2 separate regions of the Homo sapiens genome follow, and region 1 is linked to region 2. A link means that fine-mapping ties the variant in region 2 to the expression of a gene that starts in the linked region. Tissue or cell type: whole blood. Region 2 holds a variant in brackets; the other region holds the start of a gene. All regions are shown on one strand. Distances are between the middles of the regions.

Region 1 (8,104 bases), 340 kb before region 2:
ATGGGCAATCCTAAATGTCAAATACTGTATTGAGTGCTTTACATACATTATTTCATTTAATCTTAGCAACAATCCTTTGAGGCAAGTGCTAGCATCCTATTTTACAGATGGGGACACTGAGTCTTGGAGATGTTGAAGTGGTTTGGCCCAGGTTTCATACAGCTAGTAAGTGACAAACCCATTTCAAACCTGGGTCTCCCTAACTCTAAACCTAGTCTTCTTAACCTCTATCCTTTAAGCAGATGTAGAAATTAAAGATTATTCAAAGTGAAATGGGTAAAATACAGAGCTGGTTATGGGCAAGTGGCAGGCTCATGCACTATGGCTAGGACCACAGATTGAAACAATTTTCTGGAGGCCAGTTTGGTAAATAATGTAGTAAAAAAATTAACATGTACCCTTTGAGCCAACAATTAATCTTCTAGAAATTTAAAGAAAATAATTTCTAAACTGCACGGAGGCATGCATTAGAATTACAGCATGATTTACAAAAATATACAAACAAAAATACAGACAATGTAAACATTTTTAGTAAGGAATTAAATGGCTAAACAGATACACAATGCAAGAGTATTTAACTATTAGGATGAAAATACATTGTACAGTAAAAGGCACCAGATTACTGATGAGCATTTATCATGTGATTTTATTTTATTTATTTTATTTTTTTGAGATGGAGTCTCACTCTGTTGCCCAGGCTGGAGTGCAGTGAGGCGATCTTGGCTCACTGCAGCTTCTGCCTCCTGGGTTCAAATGATTCTCCTGCCTCAGCCTCCTGAGTAGCTGGGATTACAGGCACCCACCACCACACTGAGTAGAGACAGAGTTTCACAATGTTGGCCAGGCTGGTCTTGAACTCCTGACCTCAGGTGATTCGCCTGTCTCGGCCTCCCAAAGTGCTGGGATTACAGGCGTGATTTTATTTTTATGTAAAATTGACTACATATAGTGTATTTATATGTGCAAATATATATAGAGAAAGGTGTGGAAACATGTTTACTATGTTTCTCTCTGGCTTGAAAAAGTTTATTTTTAAACTTTTTGTGCTGTTCTTTATTGACTGAATATTTTGTGAGTCTGTATCAATTATTATAAAACAAAAAACTATTTGAAAAAAAGAATGTCAAAGTTAAATCAATTCTTGCCTCAGTAACTGGAGTAATTTCATGCACACTAGCCATATATTTTATAGAACTGGAAATCTATTATGCTCTGGAGAAAATCCAACAGGTATGTTCTAGATTTTGCCCGTAGAACTAGGCTGTTTCTAGTCCACCAAAGGATTATATTAATTTATGGAAACAATAGGGTTTGGACTAAAACCAGTTCTATCTGGGCTATAAGAGTTAAATGTTGTCTTACATTTTTATTTATAAATATCTTCAAAGCATTTTCATTTAATTGGAGTTAGTCTTCCTTGTTGATTGGCATTGTATTTTGGGAGTAAATAAATTTTAAATAGCTAAGGTAAATGGATTTTAGAGAGGCTACTTGTACAGTCACGAAGTAAATCTAATGAATCTTTTGGCCCTATATTTAGGGTTGCTCGGGTGGATTAGTAAAATGGGCCTGTTTAGTAAAAGTAGATGGAGTCTGAGAGAAGTTGAGTATGACCAGAGAAAAGATTACCAATTGGAGACATAAAAGGGTGTTATAACTGCTTTGACAAGTGATTATGACTTGTAGAGGAAGGAGAAAAAAGTCAAAGAGTTATTATTTAAGAAACATTACCAGGCGCAGTGGCTCATGACTGTAATCCCAGCACTTTGGGAGGCCGAGGCTGGTGGATAACCTGAGGTCAGGAGTTCAAGACCAGCCTGGCCAACACGGCGAAACCCTGTCTCTACTAAAAATACAAAAAATTAGCCGGGCGTGGTGGCGGGTGCCTGTAATCCCAGCTACTCGGGAGGCTGAGGCAGGAGAATCACTTGAACCCAGGAGGCAGAGGCTGCAGTGAGCTGAGATCGCGCCACTGCACTCCAGCCTGGGCGACAAGAGCGAGACTCTGTTTCAACAACAACAAAAAAGAAACAGTACCATTCTAGAAAAGAACTCTCTCTTTAGCATACATGGATGGTTATGGCAATATAAATTAACACCTAAATAATTTGTCATTCAACAAAATCTTAGCACTGTGTGTCTTGAGGATATTTTAAAGTTAATTACGACCCCGGGCTGCAGAGTGGGAGATTGGAAGAAGGAAATTCAGGAGTTGTTTTGTTAACAGTTGAAGCTGTGGAAATAAACAGTCAACCGAAGCCAGAGGAAAGGAAGGAAAAAAATAAAACCTTGAGGATACCAACATTTTTTATGGCCCCGTAAAAAAGGAGCAGCCCAAGAAAAGTGCAAACGAAGGCAAGTTCAGAAATCAGGTAGAGAGACTCATATTGAAGACAAGGGAGGAGAGTTTCAAAAAGGAGGAGTTAGCAGTATCACGTGCTGTAGAAAGGCCACACGACAGTAGGACTGAAGTGGCCACTAGATTTGGCCTTCAGCACTTACTAGAGTCTAGTGGAGACAGGAGTACCTTGCACAAGTGGCTCATTTGTTGGCACCAGAGGCTAGAACAAGGCACTTTCACACAGTCTGCATTGGACTAGATTGGGAAGTAGGCCCTACATTAGGGGACGAAACTCATGAGTGCCCGGGTATTTTCAGCTATTATTGGGGATAGGGACTCTGCGGGTGGCTAGAGGTACTGCTAAGCCAGAGCTCAGGAGATGCACCTAGGGCCCCAGTAGTAGGTCTCCGATAAGAATCAGGGGAATGAATATATAAATGAATGAATATATGAATGCATGTGGGGGTGTGGTCTAGCGATTACTTTATGAGCGTGACAAGGATAGGAAGAGGATGGTGAAAGCATACAGTAGTACCTGCCTGTGAAAGAAGCTGCCCGTCGACTCAGAGAGCTGCCACGGAGATTGGTGTTTTCAAGGCTGTCAGGTTCCCCAGTTGGGAGAAGGGTGGGAAGGGCTTAAGGATTTACAGAGATTGATTTAGGGGAGAACACACAGGAAGCGAAACAGCAGGAAACGCCGGGAGACAGCAGCAGCAGGACAGGATTGAGGAAGGGTAAGAGTGCGAAATGGGGTAAGAATAAAAGAAAGGAATGGACAGATGTATGCTTTACAAGGCACTTCCACGGCGAGTGACTCATTCATGCTTAGGACAACCCAGGGAGAGACATAGGTATATATTGCATTGCCAGCCTTTGGAATGCGGGATGCGGTCCAGATAAGGCCATCGCAGCTCAGAGAGGCTGTTCAGCCGCTGTTCGATTCCTCTGGTGACAAGAACACTCTACTTTTGGAAGTAGCACTTCTATTAGAGAAGTTAAAAAAAAAAAAAAAAGAAAAGGGAGATAAGAAGAAAGGTGTGGGCCCCTTGAGGGGAAAGATCTGTGAATGACAGACATTTTAGATAATTCATGGAATTGCAGAGCCAGAACGGGTCAGGCAGATCTTTTCATCTGTAAAACGAAGGGGGCAGACGATCTTCCTTTTCTCTTGTCTAATAGCCTGTGAAATCATCTAGGCAACCACCTCCCAATTTTACAGAATAAAAAACGAGGCCCGCGGGATATGTCTCGCTCAAAGTAACAGAACGCCCGAGTGGAGGGACAGGCCCGGAGCCGACTCCGCCCCGTCCGCAGGGCCTCTCGCCGCTCCGACACCTTCCCAGAAAGATAAAGAACAGCGGGAGGCGGCAGGCCCGGCGGCCTAGCTGCGAGCGCCCTGGTGTTCGAGGCCGCTTCCCGGCAGCAGTGGGAGGAACGCCCCGAGGGGAGGGCAGGAGAGGGGCGGGGAGGAGTTGAGACGGGCGGGGAAGAGTTCGGGCCTCCTTTCCCACACTTCGTTAGGACGCCGGCTGGGGCGGGCCGGCAGAGGGCGCGGGGCGGTTCCTCGCTCGGCGGGCCCGGCAGGCCCGGCGGGCTGGGGGCGCGCTGTCCCGGGCGCACTGTCGGAGCTCGCGGGCACCGGGTCGCGGCGGCCCGGGCGGCCGGAGCCGGCAGGGGAAGTGCGGCGGGCGGGCAGGCGGGCGGCCGGGAACGGGCGGGGCGGGGCGGGGCGCGAAGGGGGCGGTGCCGCGAGCGGGGGGCGGTGGCGGCGGCGGCGGTGGCGGCCGAGGAGGAGAACATGGCGGCCGCGGAGAGCGGCTGAAATGCCTGTTCTTCAGGCCGGGCGAGCGGGAGTCTGACGCGATTTGCTGAGCTCTGTCCTCCGACGGCTGCCTCGCGGCCTTGAGGGCCTCCGCCGCCTGTTCGCTGCTGCTCCCTCGAGCGGAGCCTGCGTCAGGTTCCCTCTGCATCCCCCTGCGGGGGGACCCCTGCTCCGGAGGAGGGGGCCGGAGAGCCGCGGCGCCGGGCCCGAGGAGCGGCGGAGGCCGGGGCGGCGCCGCCGCCACGGTCGCGGACGAGTGCGGCGCCGGTGAGCGGGGCCCAGAGGCGGCGGCGGCAGGTGAGTGGCGGGCTGCGGGTGCGGAGCCTCCCGGTGGGTGCAGCTGTCACGAGCCGCGCGGCCGCGGAGGCCCTAGGGGGCGGGGAGCAGCTGGCGCCCCTCCGCCCCCTGCTCTCCTTTCTCCCGCTCCATCCTCCTCCCACTTCCCCGAGTTCCCCTCGCGGCCCGGCGCGGCTGGAGGGGGCGGAGGTCGCAGCTGTCACGGGCACCAGCTGGGGGCTGCTCCCCGCCGGGGGAAATCGCTGCAGCAGCGACTTCTCTCCGCCTCTTTTCCAGTTGCCCTAGTTAGCGCGGAGAGGGCGAGCATCCGCGGAGGGGGTGCGAGCTGCGCGGCCGCCTGCCCGGCGTGGGGAGCGGGCGCCCCGGGCCGCCGCCGAGAGGGGGAGCCGGAAGTCGGCGCGGGCGCCCCTCGGCCCCGACGACGCCGTGACCTTGGCCGGCCCGCTCACCTCTCGGAATCTCGCCTGCCGGGACCGCGAAATGGGGGCGACCGCGGCGTCCCTCTCCGTCGGCGCAGCCCTCGACGGCGCTTGGGTTTGACCCCGGCGCGCTTGCTCGCCCCTTCTCCCGAGAAGGGGTTTCGGAGGTAGACATGGGATGGATACTGGACATGTTCCTGTCGCGGCCCGGGTTTGGTCCCCTTCCTGGGATTCAGCCGAAAGGGCCGAGGAAGGGAAGCAAACATGTTGACGAGGCGATTGGGAGGTGGGGTTGGTTAGTGGGCAGTGACAGAATTCGGGCCGCTCTCTAGTCCCTTGTAAAAGACCTGAAAAAATCGGACACCCAGGGTCTCCAGTCCTTACTACCCAGCTGTGGTGGCTGCTTTTTTATTTTATTTAAAAGCAGTTACCCCCATGGGTAGACACTGCCCAGTCTGACGACGTTAGAGGGAGACGGAGGGGTTGACAATACAGCCTGTGTGTGTGTGACAAGGACAGGCCACGGTGTTGTGTCCGGAGAGTTTCATGGGGAGGAAAACTTTAAGCTGGAGGATCTGTTAGCCTCTCATGCTTGGCCCTCCTCGTTTCTTGTAGAGGTGTTGAACAGGCAGGTGTCCTTGTGCAGAAGGTGACATTTTTTCTTCGGAGACGGTGAGTTTTTAATGTCGAGTGTGATGTTGGTGAGTAAAGGGTTCTTGAGTGAATTGCAGTCCCAGCACCCTCTGTGGATGCCAAGAGGAATCTCTGTGGCGATGATTTGTGAGGGCTGGTGCTTACATTTCAGTGATTAAGAAATCAAGTGTCTGCTTAAAACATTACTGCCGTGAAGCGTAGATTATATGATACAGTTGAGGGATGGATCTCAAGGGTTAAATTTGTTTGAGGTTTGTCTCCTCTTCTGGAATTGGTTGGAGGCTAGTCTCAAAAAAAAAGCAAACAAAACAACAACAATAACAACGAAAGTTGGCCAGAGGGGCCTCCTATGATGTTGTAGGAAGGGGGTCGGATTTCTTCATGTTGAGAATAATGTGAAAAGAAAGTATTTGCTTAGGTCTCTTGGATCTTCAACTAGAAATAGTTTTGGGTTAAAGGTAGCAGTGGGGTTTGATTCAGCTTAACAAATAGGCATTCCTTGAACTATTTGCCATAAATTAGATAAAATGGAAGTGTTTCTGTTTTATCTCCTGTACTTTGTGGAAAGGTCTAATTTGGTTTTGTGAACGAATGTCCGAAATGTTTTATATTTCTTCTTCAGACTCTATGCTTTGGGAACAGTGGGTCACAGAGAGGGTCTGAGTTGGGAATATATGGTTTAGAGAGAAAATAGAGGACTGCTGCTTATAAGAACAGGTGTTTAGTTTGATTTTTGTAGATATTTTCTACTGGTTATTTAACAACATTGAAGTTTGCTTTATAAGGTGCAAAACGTGAATTTTACGTAGCTTACACTTGATCTCTTCCTTATTTCTCTCAGAAAACCTGTAGGATTGTGCCTATTAAATTGCTTTTTGTGTGGTTTAAACCAAGAGAGTATTTTAGATCTGCAGTGGTTTTATTGGAAAAAAAAAAAAAGTGCTTGATGGAGCTAATGGTGATTGTTTCACTTAAACTAGGATTATATAGACAATGCTTCTTCCTGCCTCTTTCTGCGAACATTTGTTTTTGTTTCTCCCTCAATTCCAGGGTTTCATTTCTAGAAATCTGGGCTGCAAACAGAAGCAGCAGTTTGTATAATCCCAAGAACTTGCTTATGCCAGGAAGCTGTAAGGGTAGCATGAAGCGGGTGTGATGTAAAGACACTGCTACTACTTAAGACATTTAACTGTTGAGGGAGTCTAAGGTCAAACTTTAATTTTTGTTGAATTTCCTGTTTTCTGCTTATGTGTTAATCTTTTGGTGGGCAGAAGATTGGGTTGCTATGGTGCTAACTGGTGTATATTGTGAAAGTGCTGGCAACATTTCATGCTTTTACTCTATAGGGAAGGGTGGTAAACAAGCCTAAATAATTTAAAGATGTTGTTCTCAGAATGGAATGTTCTGTGCATGTCTTCTTGATCCTGCTAATCCAGTGAGCGGTCTTCACTAGGACTAAATGTTGAGTAAGTGATGAGGGTGGTATAGAGGTGCTGAAAGGTGGAGTGGTGGAGAGAGGGTATTGGGCATTTTCTTGAAATTCTTTTCCCCAATTCTGTATAGGGAATCTGTATACTAGACTGTGATTTATAATTGTTTTTCAAGGATGTTTTAGTTCTCCCTGCTTGGTTGTCATCAATTTCATATACCTCCTCTTAGATACTACCTCTGTTCCGTACTTTAGTTTGTCTTTTTTGCTGCGTCTCCCAAGGACTCCACATTGTTTGAATGTTATGTTGCATATCTTATGGAGTTGGCTGGCCTTAAGCCATGTGGCTTAACATAGTTTTCATTATAGGGCAGGTGTGGGAGGTCAATACAACGCACAACACGGAGTAAAATCTAAGTCATGGAGCATAGGAGATCCCCGGGACGCTCATGATTGTTTTGGCATTGGTTTTTGCCTTTTAAATATGATTATAACAGAAATTCTCAGAGGACCATCAGCTGCTTTCCTGGCAGAGGTCCAAAAATGTTTTGGAGGGTTCCATTTTGCATTACTTGCAAATATTGGATGCTGTGGTCGGTGTGGGCTCGGGTGAAATCCATGTGTTTCAGGAGGTGGATGTCAGAACACTGTATCTGATCTGGGCTGCAGAACCGTATAAATTTCTCCCTATCTTAGATTAACTTTCCTACCCATTTGGGAAGACTAGACTGTAGGAAAGGACTTTTTAAAATTGCTTCTTTCCCAGATTAGCAGTAGTTTAGCCGTTGGTGATTGGCAACTAAGGATAGGCCTCATGTTCTATTCTTAACATTGAAGATGAGGTCTAGTCATTTAAAACCTTTCCTTTTCTCTTTATATTTTAGTTAGACCTTGTGCCTTTCAACATTTGGTGTCAGAGGTCATAAAATGGCCTAGTGGCAACTAGGTACCAATGTTGGTTGCTTCATTTCATAAGGAGATGAAGGTGTTTTTTTTTTGTTTTTTTTTTTTAATAGCTTAGTTCTGGAAAATGGTTTGTGGGCTATAGTATTTGGATTAATGTATAGAAATGATTATTATATATTTCTGCAGGATACATGGCTGAATAAGGGAAATTATTATAAAACGCTGATACCAACATA
Region 2 (8,104 bases):
GATGTCATTTGGGTTGTTTTCATTTGTTTTGGGGGAGGGGGTATGTCTATTACGAACAGTGCCACTTTGGACATTCTCATACATATATCCTGGGACATGAGTATGTGCATGAATTTCTCTAAGATGTGTGTATATATATATATACACATATACACACGTCTGCGTGGGTGTGTATGTAGGAGTGGAATTGCTGGGACACAGGTTTATTTTCAACCTTACTAAATAGATCAAAATATTTTCTAACACGGTTGTACTAACTCATACTCCCACCAGGAGTGTAAGAGTTACTATTGTACTTGATATTGTCAGAGTTATCTGGACCGGTACGTGTGTGATGGTATCTCACTAGGGTGTAACTGGCATTTCCTTGATTACTTGAGTGCCATTTATTAGTGGCCATTTAGAGTTCTTCTTTTGCTAAGGGCTATGCAGGTTTTACCCCTCTTCTATTAGGTCATCTTTTTATTTCTAAACTTCCTTGAAGGTCTGTTCAAGTCATGGAATCATAAAATTTTAAAACCTTGGCACTGGCAGGGACCTTAGAGAACTTCTGGTTCAGTATCCTCCTCAAGAGATGAAATTGCAACTCATGGAAACGGACCTGCCTGTGACCCACAGAGAATTACTGCCTGCTGCAGGCTCAGAAGCCAGGTCCAAATCCAAAGCGTCTTCCTCCCTCCTCATTTTCCTGCTGCCTGTCTGTCCTGCCAGCCAGTTACATGCAGCTGCCATCCACCTGGTATTTCCTTCCCTCCTCACTGCACTGCTGCAGCCCTCCTGGAGGAACCCATGCCAGCTTCTCTAACCTGCACGTATCAGGTCACGTGCCTCCCGGGAGGGTGAGATCCCGGGGCTTGGGCCTGTTATATTCCTGTCTCTAGAAGAAGGGCTGTGAGTGCAGGCCAGGAGGGGAAGCCGTGGCCCTTACCTGTCAGTGCCATTGAGCCCAGGGTTGAATCCTTGCATCTGCTCTAAGGCCACCATAGGTAAGCTGTTGGACAGATAACAGCACAGTCAGGCCCCATCTGGGAACAAGAGCCTGATGCCCAGCCAGGCACCGGGGTATCCCAAGTCCTCCACTCGGGGAGAATGGGAAGAATCTATTCTCAGGTCCTAGCCAAACAGTGATACGTCTGTGAGCAGCCAGGAACTGGTTCTTGAACAAGCCTTTGAGGACCCCTAGTGGCAGAAAGCCACCTCAGCACAGGCCCATGAGCTTGAACTGAGGACTTTGCGGGCGGGAGGAAGGAGACAATACAGATCCCCAGTCACGCTTCATCTTACTCGTGCTCCCGAAAACGCTTGTGGTCGTATTCATCAAAGACGGGACGCCAGGCATAGAGGTTGATGGTGGCCACGGCGCCTGCGACGAGCAGCATGAGCGTGAGCTTCACCATGTGGCTGACCTGCACCAGCATGATGGTGGCGATGAGGGACAGCACGGCCACATAGTTGTAATACTTGGGGTTCTCCAGGCAGCTGCCCTCCGTTTCCATCCCTGCCGTTGCATTGCTGGGTCCCGTGTAGTACTGGAGACAGCTGAGCTGGAGGCCAGGACGGCGGGCAGGGACACACGTTCAAGAGAACAGCAGGTGCTGGTCACAGAGGGCTGTGCATGGTAGTGCACGCTCAGCTGCCACCTCCCGCGGCTCCCCCAGAAATACCGGGAAAGATGGGGAAATTTACCAGGGACTAATCATATGAAAGTTAGTAACTGCAGCTAAGAGCCTCGCCGTTGCCTCATTTGACATTCACAAAAACTCTCTCGAGTATTTTTAGTACTGTCCCTATTGTACAGAAAACTCGGGCCAGATTTGCCCAAACACAATTAGCAAGCAGAAAAGCCAAAAGTAGGAGCCAAGTCTTTAGGCTTCAAATCCAACATGTTCTTCCCCATATCACACTGTTGCTTCAGGAGGGGCCACGGGACCATGAGCCCCACTCACAGCCTCCCCGTGATGACAGCTAGTCTCTGCCCAAATCCTTCCATTGGGGGGATGTTCACTGCCTTCTGGATTCTTTACTGGTTCTGCTACTGGGCAGATGCGGCCGGGAGAAAGCGCATCCAGAACCGGAATCAACCCCCCCTTTTTGTAACTTTCACCCACAGGGCAACCTTGTCTTGCTTGCGCGATTCCCGCCATGTCATTCTAGCATGAGCAGTTGTTACACCTCCCTAGCTTTTTACCCCTCCATGAGTGACAGCATCTCCAGGTGTCCTGTACAGTGTCCAGGACCCCATGCAGTGGTGACCTCCACACCTGGGTGCCAGGTTCCAGGCATGTTGTGACATGCAGGGGGCCTGGGGCTTCTCTTCCCTGGGTAGTGGGCACCAGCAACCCCTGGCCAAGGTAGGCTCTGGAGCCCCTAACTCCTCATTCCCAGTAGACTTATTCTTTTTTTTCTTTTTTTTTTTTGAGATGGAGTCTCGCTCTGTCGCCCAGACTGGCGTGCAGTGGTGCATTCTTGGCTCACTGCAACCTCCACCTCCCAGGTTCAAGCGATTCTCCTGCCTCAGCTGCCCAAGTAGCTGGAATTACAGGCTCGTGCCATTGTGGCTGGCTAATTTTTGTATTTTTAGTAGAGACGGGGTTTCACCATCTTGGCCAGGCTGGTCTCAAACTCCTGACCTCAAGTGATCTGCCTGCCTCAGCCTCCCAAAGTGCTGGAATTACAAGTGTGAGCCACCGCGCCCGGCCCCCCACTGGACTTCTGATTAGCTGCAGCCCTGGAGCTTTTTCACTTATACCACTGGCAGAATAAGTCTCCATGTTGGTTGTATTTGTGTGCTCCAATTTTTTTTTTTTTTTTTTTTTTTTTTTTGAGACAAAGTCTCACTCTGTTGCCAGGCTGGAGTGCAGTGCACAATCTCGGCTCACTGCAAGCTCCACCTCCCGGGTTCACGCCATTCTCCTGCCTCAGCCTCCTGAGTAGCTGGGACTACAGGCGCCTGCCACCACGCCCGGCTAATTTTTTTGTATTTTTAGTAGAGACGGGGTTTCAACTGTGTTAGCCAGGATGATTTCGATCTCCTGACCTCGTGATCCGCCCGCCTTGGCCTCCCAAAGTGCTGGGATTACAGGCGTGAGCCACTGCGCCCGGCACCGTGTGCTCCAATTGTTAAAGTACAACAATAACATTATATTTGAAAAAAAAGGAAGATAGTGTATATGGTACTACCACAATTAGAGGAGGCCGTGACAACTGACAAGAGAACACTGATGACAGCTCCAGGCATGTAGTGCTCAATACGTGCCCAGTGGTTCTAAACCAATAGATCTGGGCTCCCAACTCCTGTCCCTTTTCCCCAAGAAAGCATTTGGCTGCCCCCTCAGGGAGGAAGAATACACAGGACTGGGACTTAGAACTGCCTCCATTCTGGACTCTGTCACTTCCTGGCTGTGTGACCTAGAGCAAGTGAATTACCTTTTTTTTTTTTTTTTGAGACGGAGTCTTGCTGTCGCCTAGGCTGGAGTGCAGCGGCTCAATCTCGGCTCACTGCAACCTCCGCCTCCTGGGTTCAAGCGATTCTCCTGCTTCAGCCTCCCAAGTAGCTGGGATTACAGGTGTGCACCACCATGCCTGGCTAATTTTTGTATTTTTAGTACAGATGGGGTTTCACCATGTTGGCCAGGCTGGTTTCGAACTCCTGACCTCGTGATCCGCCCACCTTGGCCTCCCAAAGTGCTGGGATTACAGGCGTGAGCTACCGCGCCCAACCAATTACCCTTTTTGAGAGTTAGTTTCTCCCTATGAAACTGCAGATACTGGTACAACTGCTCAGGACTTTTTCACAGATTAAATGAATCAACATACATAAGGTACCTAGCACAGGCCTGGGCACATGGAACTGTGCTCTCGGACTCTGGGAGAGGAGCTTCAAGGAAACAAGTCCATCCCAGAGGCTCCCTGGATGACAGGGACAAGACTCCTTCCACTAGGTGGGGATGATGTGTTTGGGAACCTAAGAGCCACTCCAAAGCTACATGACGGTGGAGGGATGGACTGAGAAACTGCTTGTGTGACCCAAACAGAAGCCCTTCTCCACTGAGAACAGGGGCGTCCCTTCAACAAGGACAGCAGGAGCTCACCATGTCCACGACATTTGCCATCACCAGGATGAAGATGGCGAGCATGGCCCAGGTGTTCCTGGCCCAGCGGGTCCGGTCAATCCAAGTTGAGAAGGCCACAAGCTTCTTAGGAAAGGCCTAGAAGGAACAGAATTTCAAGGGCCATGAGCCTTTGCCAGTCCTTTCTCCTGCGACGTGACTGACAGCAACTCAGGCTGGTCCCGTATTCCAGTCCCAGGAGCCTCAAAACGGACTCTGCCTGGGAGTCACC[T/C]GACAGCTGACCAAGGGGCAGAGCTGAGAAGAGGGCGTGGGAGTTCTGACGCTGTGTTGGACCTCCTCGATGTGCCTGTTCAACAGCACAGCCTCCAGGTCGCAGCCCTTTCCACAGCAGACGTGGTGACGAGGTGAGGCCAGGGCAGGAACAGTTTTCAGGGCTGCTCGTCTCTGGCCAGCTACTCCTGCCTATCCTGGCTCCAAGTGACCTGGCGAGCCACCTGTCAGATTTATGTTCCTAAACACTGCTTTACCTTTGTCATTCTGATTAAAAAAAAAAAAAACTCTGCTTGGTACCTCAGTGCCTTACAGGAGAAAGTTTTAATCCCTTTAGTCTGGCTTCTAAGGGCCTTCACCATCGGGGCCAACCCACCTTCCAGCCGGCCCTCCACTTCCTCTCTACCCAGGTTCTTGTTTACCCAGACTCTGCCGTACTCATACGTGCTGCAGCGCCACGGCCCAACAAGGCCCACCACGGCCCAGCCGTGGCCCACCACAGCCTGCCACAGCCTGGTGGCCCAGCCAGAGGGAGTGCTCTGCTGATGGTGAATGAATGGATGGGCAAGTGCCTGGACCGTCCTAACAGAGGAGTGTCTGCCTGTCAGATTTGACAGAAAGAATAACTCCATCACTGCCCAGTTTTACAGGGAGTGCCACTCACTTCCAGAGGCTTCTGAGCTCAGTAGAAAAGTGCCTCTTACCCGGGGAAAGATGGCAGCCAGGGAGCAGATGGTCAGGATGAGGAGCAGAATCTCCCCCACCATGAAGGTCACATAGTTTGTCATTAGCCTGTGACAGAGAGAAGACAATTGGGAGAGGCCAGAGGGGACAGTGAGATGGGGTGAGGGGCTAGGAGAGGAAGGGACGGGGATGGGGGCAGGGGCCAGGGGACAGCGGACAGGGGGCAGGGGACAGTGGACAGGGGCCAGGGGGCAGGGGACAGCGGACAGGGGCCAGGGGACAGCGGACAGTGGCCAGGGGACAGCAGACAGGGGCAGGGGCCAGGGGGCAGCGGACAGGGACTGGGGGCAGGGGCCGGGGGCAGGGGCCAGCAGACAGGGACCGGGGGCAGGGGCCAGCAGACAAGGACCGGGGGAAGGGGGCAGGGGGCAGGGGACAGGGGCCGGGGGCAGGGGACGGGGAGGCCTCTCAGCACAGCACGAGCCTGTACAGCTCCACGCGGTGCCAGGGAATTGCTGCTGCCTGCCGTGCAGAACAGGACAAAGGCCCTGATGAGACGGGCCGCCAGCTGAGTGCCGGCCTGGGAGCGGGCCACTCTCCAGCTGCAGCTGCTGCCTGGGACATTTCCCAGAGAGGGAACAACTCACAGGTGGCCTGGGCACAGCCCAGGATAAACTTGGGCAGGGATCTTAGGAATGCACCCCTGCCATGTCGCTGTGCTGAAAGGACAGAGCACGGAGCAGCATCACTCCCTCGCTGCCGGGGGCTAAGAGTCTGCCTGTGACAGCCACCCCCAGCTTCACAGTGGACACACTCAACACATCCACCTTAACCTGACAACTCCCGGAAACCTGTTCTCTATACCCTCTGCTCACACCCATTCCCGTTTAACCCCTCCCTGGAAGGTGTCCTTGCCAAGAGCCCCAGAAGCCTCCTGGTAGCTAAATCCATGTCCCATTTTCAGTCACCTCTCACCCCTCCTTGAGACACTTTTCTCGCTTGGTTTCTTGAGTCCTTTTCTGTCTCTGCATCTGGACACGCTGCCTTGAGCTCAGCAAGTCTCGTGTTGCAGCACAGCCTGCATGCTGGTGATGCCAGGTTCACGTCTCCAACCCCACCCGCCCTCCAAACTCCAGATCATGGATGCTGGCCTCCTTGGCTTGTGGGCACTGCAAACTTCACGTGTCCCAAAGCAAACTCCTGATCTTTGCCTCTCCACTCTCATCTTTCCACCTTGTCCCCATCTTGGTTAACGGCACCCCCGTCCTGCCAGTTGCTCAGATCAGAAGCCCAGGAGACATCCTCAACTCCACACTCACGCCCCACAACCAATCTGCCAGCAAATCCTGTCAGCTCTGTCTCCAAAATACATTCAGCATCTATCGACGGAATCCAACCACTGATCCTCCTCTATCCTCGGCCTGGCCTGGCCACCACAGTGGCTTGTCTGGGCCGCTATTTGGTCTCACTGCTCCCGCTGTGCTCACTAAGCGCTGTTCTCAGCAGGAGTGAGCCTCTCCAGGCATATGTCACAACAGGGGACTCCTCTGCTCCCTTGTTCTGGCGGCCTCCTGTGTTAAGAGTGGAAGCTGGCACCCTGCAGTGGCGTGTAGGAGGCCCCACGTCTGTGCTGGACTCCTGCTACTCTTCCTGTGGCCCGTTCCCAATGCGATGCCTCCTCACTGTGCCTCCAGGGGCCAGGCCACTCCAGCCTCAGCACCTCTATCCGAAGCAGGTGTCCCCCAGATAGGAGAAGGCTCGCCCCTCACCCGCTTCCAGGCGTTACTGAAATATTATCCTGCCAGCAAGTCCTGCTCTGACCATCCCACATCAAAATGCAAACAAAACAAAACAAAGCTCCCCAGCAGCATACCCGCCTCCCTTCCTTGCCTTCCCTGTGTCTGCAGTACTTACTCTCGCATGGATGCATATTTTAATTGTTTAATTGCTTTTGCCTGTAGCTTCCCCTACCAGAACCCAAGTTTCACGAGAGCAGGGGTTTCTGTGTGCCGCATCGCTGCCATAGCCCCAGCCCTTGATCCCCACGCATGAAGCAGACAACCAATCAATACTTATGGAATGAGTGAATTTGAGCCTCACCACAGTCGTGAGTGTCCGCTAGGGCAGGGGTTGTTCTCCTCATTTCACAGATGAGGAAACAGATGCTGCCGGAGCCTGCAGTGGCCTGCACGTGGTCACACACCCGCAACCTTAGATAGTGTGACCCAGCCCAAGGCTCCTGACAAACTGTAATCCCAGCAGGGTTCCAGACCCCTCCTCTGTGACGGGGAATCCCCGATTGGCCGAGGGGAGAAAGGGAGAACAAGAGAGTGGTCGTCACCCTCAGACAGGGCTTCACCAGCTGGGGACTCCAGGAGGCCACACCTTGCCCTGGAGGACCTACTGCTGCGTTAGAGAGGGCGTCAGTCTGTGCCCACAGCCTAAAATCTATCTTTACCAAGATGAGCCAAGAGAGGGGCCAGGTCAGCCTTGGTGACTGAGACTGACGCAGTGTCCCCATCTTTGTCCCAAGAATCAGTGTGGGCCCATCTAGCCAAGGTCTCCAGCCTTCTGGAGGCCTCTGTCCCTCAGCTCTCTTGATCCTGGCCAGATCCCCATTCTGACGCTAGGACTGCTCCAAAACGCGGGGCAGGGAAAAGGAAGGATGCCCAGGGTGCCGTCTAGCACTCCTGGGGCCTGTGGGGGCCGTCCCAGTGGGGGTCAGGGAGCAGAGACTGGCTTGCTCCCCAATGTCAGGCTCCCGCTGAGACACCTGCCCCCGCCCCCCGCCCGGCACCACCGCAGCCGAGGAAACTCGTGGCCCTCCCCGGCCCCTCCCTCACCAGGGGTCGATGAGTATCTCGACCAGGGCCGTGCAGAGCAGGACGACGCAGGAGCAGCTGAAGGCAGCCCCACTCTGCTTCTCCTTCTCCACCGAGTAGCGGGTTTCCATCTCGGGGTCCATGAACCGCATGGACAAGAGGAAGGTGTTTCTCTTCTTTACTCTGCAGTGGGAACAAGCCCCATGAATCCCAAATGCCACATCTGCCTTGGCCTAGCAGGGGGGCCGTATTTGGGAT

What was found. PIP is the estimated chance that this variant, and not a neighbour inherited with it, causes the effect.
Region 1: it holds the start of NCOA1, and the variant in region 2 is fine-mapped to the expression of NCOA1 in whole blood (TOPMed, PIP above 0.99).

The regions. Positions count from the first base shown.
Region 1 is chr2:24,487,143-24,495,246 of GRCh38, forward strand. NCOA1 (nuclear receptor coactivator 1) reads left to right here and starts at 4,112. Exons shown (of 23, transcript NM_003743.5): 1 at 4,112-4,460. RefSeq lists silencers at 3,765-4,104, 4,082-4,240, 4,395-4,884.
Region 2 is chr2:24,826,618-24,834,721 of GRCh38, forward strand. ADCY3 (adenylate cyclase 3) reads right to left here. Exons shown (of 22, transcript NM_004036.5): 11 at 7,868-8,029; 12 at 5,045-5,132; 13 at 4,092-4,208; 14 at 1,285-1,544; 15 at 929-991. LOC105377626 (a long non-coding RNA gene) reads right to left here and starts at 7,849. Exons shown (of 2, transcript XR_939842.3): 1 at 7,125-7,849; 2 at 5,463-5,743. RefSeq lists a silencer at 6,583-6,877 and enhancers at 7,057-7,981, 7,982-8,104. The variant T/C (reference allele first, on the strand shown) is at 4,342.